Linked DNA regions of Homo sapiens. The protein of the gene in region 1 interacts with the protein of each later gene in a pairwise test. Each region holds a gene or a part of one and is shown in the gene's direction. Other genes may lie near its edges.

What was found. Proteins that work in one complex are often made in the same cells at the same time.
Region 2: the proteins of THAP2 (region 1) and VANGL1 interact in a two-hybrid assay, tested with the Homo sapiens proteins (one large-scale study listed by BioGRID and IntAct).

The regions. Positions count from the first base shown.
Region 1 is NC_000012.12:71,674,301-71,677,722, forward strand, and holds part of THAP2 (THAP domain-containing protein 2), read left to right. Parts: coding exon 1-98; intron 99-2,388; coding exon 2,389-2,808; 3' UTR 2,809-3,422.
Region 2 is NC_000001.11:115,696,346-115,698,721, forward strand, and holds the end of VANGL1 (vang-like protein 1), read left to right. Parts: 3' UTR 1-1,876; downstream 1,877-2,376.

The DNA.
Region 1 (3,422 bases):
TTGAAGCCTCCTGTTTTGACCTAACAGGACAAACTCGACGACTTAAAATGGATGCTGTTCCAACCATTTTTGATTTTTGTACCCATATAAAGTCTATGGTAGGTAATGTTACTCTCCTTTTGTTAAAACCATTTTTAGAACTCATTCCTTTTTGTTTATGCAGTTATTAACTGAAATTCATTTATAGTGATATGCCTCAAAAAAGTTGCAGACCTTCCTCTTGTACAGTAAAGGTACAGGCTAGAATCAGAGTTTGGGTCTCCTGACTCCAATATTCTTTCCCCAATCCAAATTGTTTTACTATATTGGAATTTTACATTATTACCCATTATTATTAATAATTGCACCATTGGTAAAACTGAAAAATCATATGAGTAATGAAACCTCCAGCATCACTGTGCTCTGATTTTAAAATGACATACAAATAACATGTGCAAAGTACTTTAAGAGCACACAGCCAGAATTAAACCAAAGAATGTAAGTTCAGAGGGAGGCAGGCATGACAGAAATCTTCAGAGAGCTTGGGCATTCAGGGTGGGCTTTTGAAGCCTTGGGAGTTTAAAATAGAGGAAAGGGAACTTGGCTTTGCACAGAATAATTACAGTTGCATAATGAGAACAAAAACGAGTGGGTTGAGGCGTGAGTAGGAAATGTTAGCAAGTGATATTTAAAGGAAAGAATGAAGAAAAAATGAAGCAAAAAAAAGTAAATTAAAAAAAACGAAAGAATAAAGGTATAAGATGAATGAATTAAAACAATGTTTTATCTAGTTAGGGAAGATCTGACCAGAGAGGAAAACCTAGCTGGGAAAGACAGGGTCACCAAGAGTAAGAAAGGGTAAAATGAACACAAATAGTTTAGCTTTGAAAGGGAGGACAAACATGTTTTCCTCTGAGGAAAAACTACTGTTTCTCTTGTTTGTAACTGTTAAACTTTTAAATGTATATGAGTTATTATCTGAATGGAGACGAGGTTGTGGTAAGCTAATTACCACTGATGTTAGAAAAGCTCCAGGAGGACAAGAACTTAGTCTTTTTCACACGTGAATCCTCAGCACCTCAAACAGTGCCTGGGACATAGTATATACTCAAATACTTACTGAATTTGAAATACACCTTATTTTTGACATTTTGATAATTTATTTATTTAATAAATACAACTAAACTTTCCATTATGCCAGAATCTAAGCTCAGTGCTAGAGATACAAAGATCAAAAAAGAGTTCCTGTCAATTCCCTAGGCAGAGGGACTAACTGTAGGTTTCATGAGGATAGGAACCACATCATCTTATTTGTTCAGTGTTGTGTCCCCAGGAATGCATAGTATGTGTTTCAATAAATGTTTAATGAATTAAAGACACAGACTTATGAGGATATGATATAATCTGGAAACTCCCAGTGGCTTAGTATTGCTGGAGTATAAATCAAGATGGTAAATTGCAGAATGGGGTGAGATCCTAAATTGTATAGTATGCCATCTAAAGATTTATTTTTCCTTTAGATAATAGATAGGCAAAGAATAATTTGGCCAGAATGGAAAAGTCAAATATTCTAGAAAAATTATTCTTATGGCAGAATGTGGATTAATGAGGATCAAAATGAAGTGGAGAGATCAATAAAGAATAATATAGTCAGAACAGATATGATACGGGCCCAGTGTAAGTAGTGACATTAAGAATGACAGTGTTCAGCCTTATTGTGGAACAGAGAAAGGAAAAAAAAGAATGACGGAGAGGAGAGGATTCATGGTAGGAATATTTAGTGGGTAGAATTAATAGGACTTGATGACCATTTGAATGAAAGAGATAAAAGCAAAAAAAGTCTCCTGATTTTGGCAAATGTTCCTAGCCAGATTTTAAATCCTTGAAGATATAACCATCAAAAATTAATAGGTAAATCTGTTTAGAAGCTTGGTACTTAAGAATACATTTCTACAGATCCTTCAGTTTTCATTAAATAGGACCCTGGGTCTAAAATATTTATCAAATTGAGAAAAGGGTATTTAATTAAAAGGGGATCAAATTAATATCATAAATAATATCTACATATATTGTAAATTGACCTTAGTAAATTGCAAAGGATCTTTAAAGTCTCTATAGAGTCATAGTCAATAATTTGGAAGAAACCTTGGACGTCCATTGTCTATTTCCAAATCAGTGTTTGAATCTCTCTGGATATGGGACAAAAAGAAATAGGTGACTAGAGTTAATTCAACCAGTTAAAAAACTTAATCTTGGATTACATGAGATGGCTGCTGCTGTTTCCTATTAAAGTTTTAAAATTGACTTTTAAAAGAGCAGTTTAAATACTGTTATCCAAAACTGGACACTATGTGCTTATTTGTGATATTTCATAATTTATGTTCAACCCTCTAATTTTATTCGGCTCAGAAACTCAAGTCAAGGAATCTTTTGAAGAAAAACAACAGTTGTTCTCCAGCTGGACCATCTAATTTAAAATCAAACATTAGTAGTCAGCAAGTACTACTTGAACACAGCTATGCCTTTAGGAATCCTATGGAGGCAAAAAAGAGGATCATTAAACTGGAAAAAGAAATAGCAAGCTTAAGAAGAAAAATGAAAACTTGCCTACAAAAGGAACGCAGAGCAACTCGAAGATGGATCAAAGCCACGTGTTTGGTAAAGAATTTAGAAGCAAATAGTGTATTACCTAAAGGTACATCAGAACACATGTTACCAACTGCCTTAAGCAGTCTTCCTTTGGAAGATTTTAAGATCCTTGAACAAGATCAACAAGATAAAACACTGCTAAGTCTAAATCTAAAACAGACCAAGAGTACCTTCATTTAAATTTAGCTTGCACAGAGCTTGATGCCTATCCTTCATTCTTTTCAGAAGTAAAGATAATTATGGCACTTATGCCAAAATTCATTATTTAATAAAGTTTTACTTGAAGTAACATTACTGAATTTGTGAAGACTTGATTACAAAAGAATAAAAAACTTCATATGGAAATTTTATTTGAAAATGAGTGGAAGTGCCTTACATTAGAATTACGGACTTAAAAATTTTGCTAATAAATTGTGTGTTTGAAAGGTGTTTTTTGTTTTTGTCTTTTTAAACTACTGTTAAAAGAACAGCTTATGATAAGTAATATGTTTAACTTAGAGAAGAATTTTTTCCTGTACCAAAGTTGGCATATTGCATTCTAAATAAGATGCTAAATAAGAGTTAACCAACATTCAACATGACCTTAAAACTGCTGGGTTTTGTATTAATTAAATTATAATTGGCACTGTGATTTGAAAAATTTATAGAAAAAAAGGTACAGGGCAAGTTTTTAAATTAAAACTTTCTATATTTTGTTTTACCAGTAAAAGTGAGCTTATCATGGCCTCTCTCATAAGAATGATTTTAAAATAGGTTGTAAAATATTTTGAAAATATTTGAATGTGAAGTACCAT
Region 2 (2,376 bases), on another chromosome or scaffold:
TTCTCAGCAAGCAGTTTGCATCCCACCGTCTTTCTCACACTTGCCCCCAAGACTTTTGACAGAGCAGACGTAAAACAGGACTCAGAAAACCATTTTTCTCTGTTCCCATATGTAGTAAGTTTTGATTCAGTTGTGCATAAACCATAGTTTTCTGCCCTGCTGTTTGCTTTCAATGGAAGACAGTAAAGGGAAGATGGTGCTCACATCTCTCCATGTGACATCTCATTAGGAATTAAGATGCGATGGATTAGAAATGTAAAACTTCAGAATAAAATTAAATTTCAGGGCTCTATAAGTCCCGTTTTCCCAGGTCCTGTTCCGTTTCTACGTAGATAACCCAATTTGTTTTGTCTATGAAATAAGCCTCTTTAGTGGGTTGTTTTAGTCTCTCCAACAAAAGAGCAGATTCCTAAAGCCAGGTGCAGCACTGTGAAAAGTTTCTTTCAATATGGCACCAAGACTCTACCATTTATGTCTCTCTCAGCTTACAAACATCAGCGTTTTGTCCTTGTCATAGTGGAAGAAAGACACTTACTTTAAGCTTTGGGGACAAAGGTGACAAACCCCAGGCTTTTATCTTAAAAGTGTCTTTGGCACTTCTTTTGGCACTGAAATGGTATTTGGGAAGCATTATTTGAATGTACAGTTGTTTGGTTTTGTATGTGCTTATCTTTATCTGAGCTTTCACTTGTAGACATGGCCTTTTGTTGTGAAGTTGCTCATCATTTAGGAGTGTTTAATTCTAAAAAGCCTTCAGCCTAAGAAAGCTTCATCTGTGGGGACCAGAGACTTGTTGCTCAGGGAGTTAGTGATGGGACTTGGGCATCTGATCTGCAGGTGACAAGTTTAGTTCAACTGAAGTTGTAGGGAATTTAGACAGTTGCACATCATTGCCGTTCTAGGGGCCTTGTAGAAAGATGAAACAGTTGTTTTTCATTTACCAGCACCTCTCAGTTATAGAGGTAATGGAACATTCGCTTACTTTTCATCATCATTCTTTAAAAAGGGAACATACAAAAATCTAAACTATGGCAATAATTTATTTTTATAATAGTTTACGGTAGGCTTTAATTAAATGGCAAACTCCTCTGGGACCCCTAAGTTATGGCGTGATTAGCCAAATTTGATTTCCAACAGTCATTTATGGCCATAACTATTGCATAGAGTGCAGGATGCCAGCAAAGATGAGGGTGGGGGCAGATACTGGCTCAGTGATTTAACTCACATTATAGATGACCCCTTCCTCAACAGAAATGCTACTGAGAGAACCAGAGAGGCCTGGGCCAGGCAGGTCTTATTTGAGAGGAGATTATTTGATAATTGCTTTGGTTAGAAGGACTTTACATTTCCTGATTTCAAGTCCAGCACCAATTTAGAAAGTTCAGAGATGAAACCACCTGTCTTTACCTGACAGAGTCATAACGGTTTGTGTAAAAATGTGGTCAGGGACCTTTTTTGTTCTTTCTGATTAGTTAATACTGTACATTGTAACCAGGAGGGGCAGTTTTGCCAACCAGCCTCTGCTCATGGTCACCATATGTGTATGACAAGGCCTGAGTGAGTTCCTGCATAAACTGGGTAGTGGGCTCTTTTGACACATTTGCAAGCATGTAAATGAATGAATGACACTACCAGCAACCATCTGTACAGGTCCATTTACTTACATTCATAAGGTTTATGCTATGAAACTTCTTCTCATTGTGATGTCAGTAACAGAGTTAGTGTCTCTGATGGAATAGTGTACCTGTCACCCAAGTTATTTTGTTCCTTTTTGGGTCCTCCAGTATAATCCCCCCCTCATCCCAATTAACTGTAAAATGTTTTACACATCACATTTTTTATACTGTAAACTTGGAAAATAAACTGAAATATCAAATTGTGTCTTGTTTCTTTTCTTCATGTGATTATTTCAATCTAAAAAGTTGCTTACTTTTTCAGGGACATTTTTCACTCTCGCATAATTTTGAGACCTTCAGAATTTCAAGACAACCTGTCATATTTCTATAAAAACCAAGACAATTGTGATGGATTGGGAAAGTAGAATTACCATTGTAACAAAAACTACTAGTTGTCAATCATTTTACAGTGAAGAAAATGTTTTGAATAGATAACTAAAAATGAAATCCTCAGGCTCTAAAACATGGAGATGAAACAGATCTTTTGAGTAAACCAGCAAGTGGAAAGGTATTTGAGTCAAATAAGAAGACAGAAAAGTAACAGACTTTGGGTTGATGTGGGAGGTGAATATTGGATTATTTTCCTGAGTGGCTTGGGAATTCAAGTTAAATTATCAACTGATTTTAGATAGGTCTATTTAAAGGAAATTTGATTATTTGCAAAGAAATATGAAGCCTGTTTTCCGCTAACCTCAGTGGT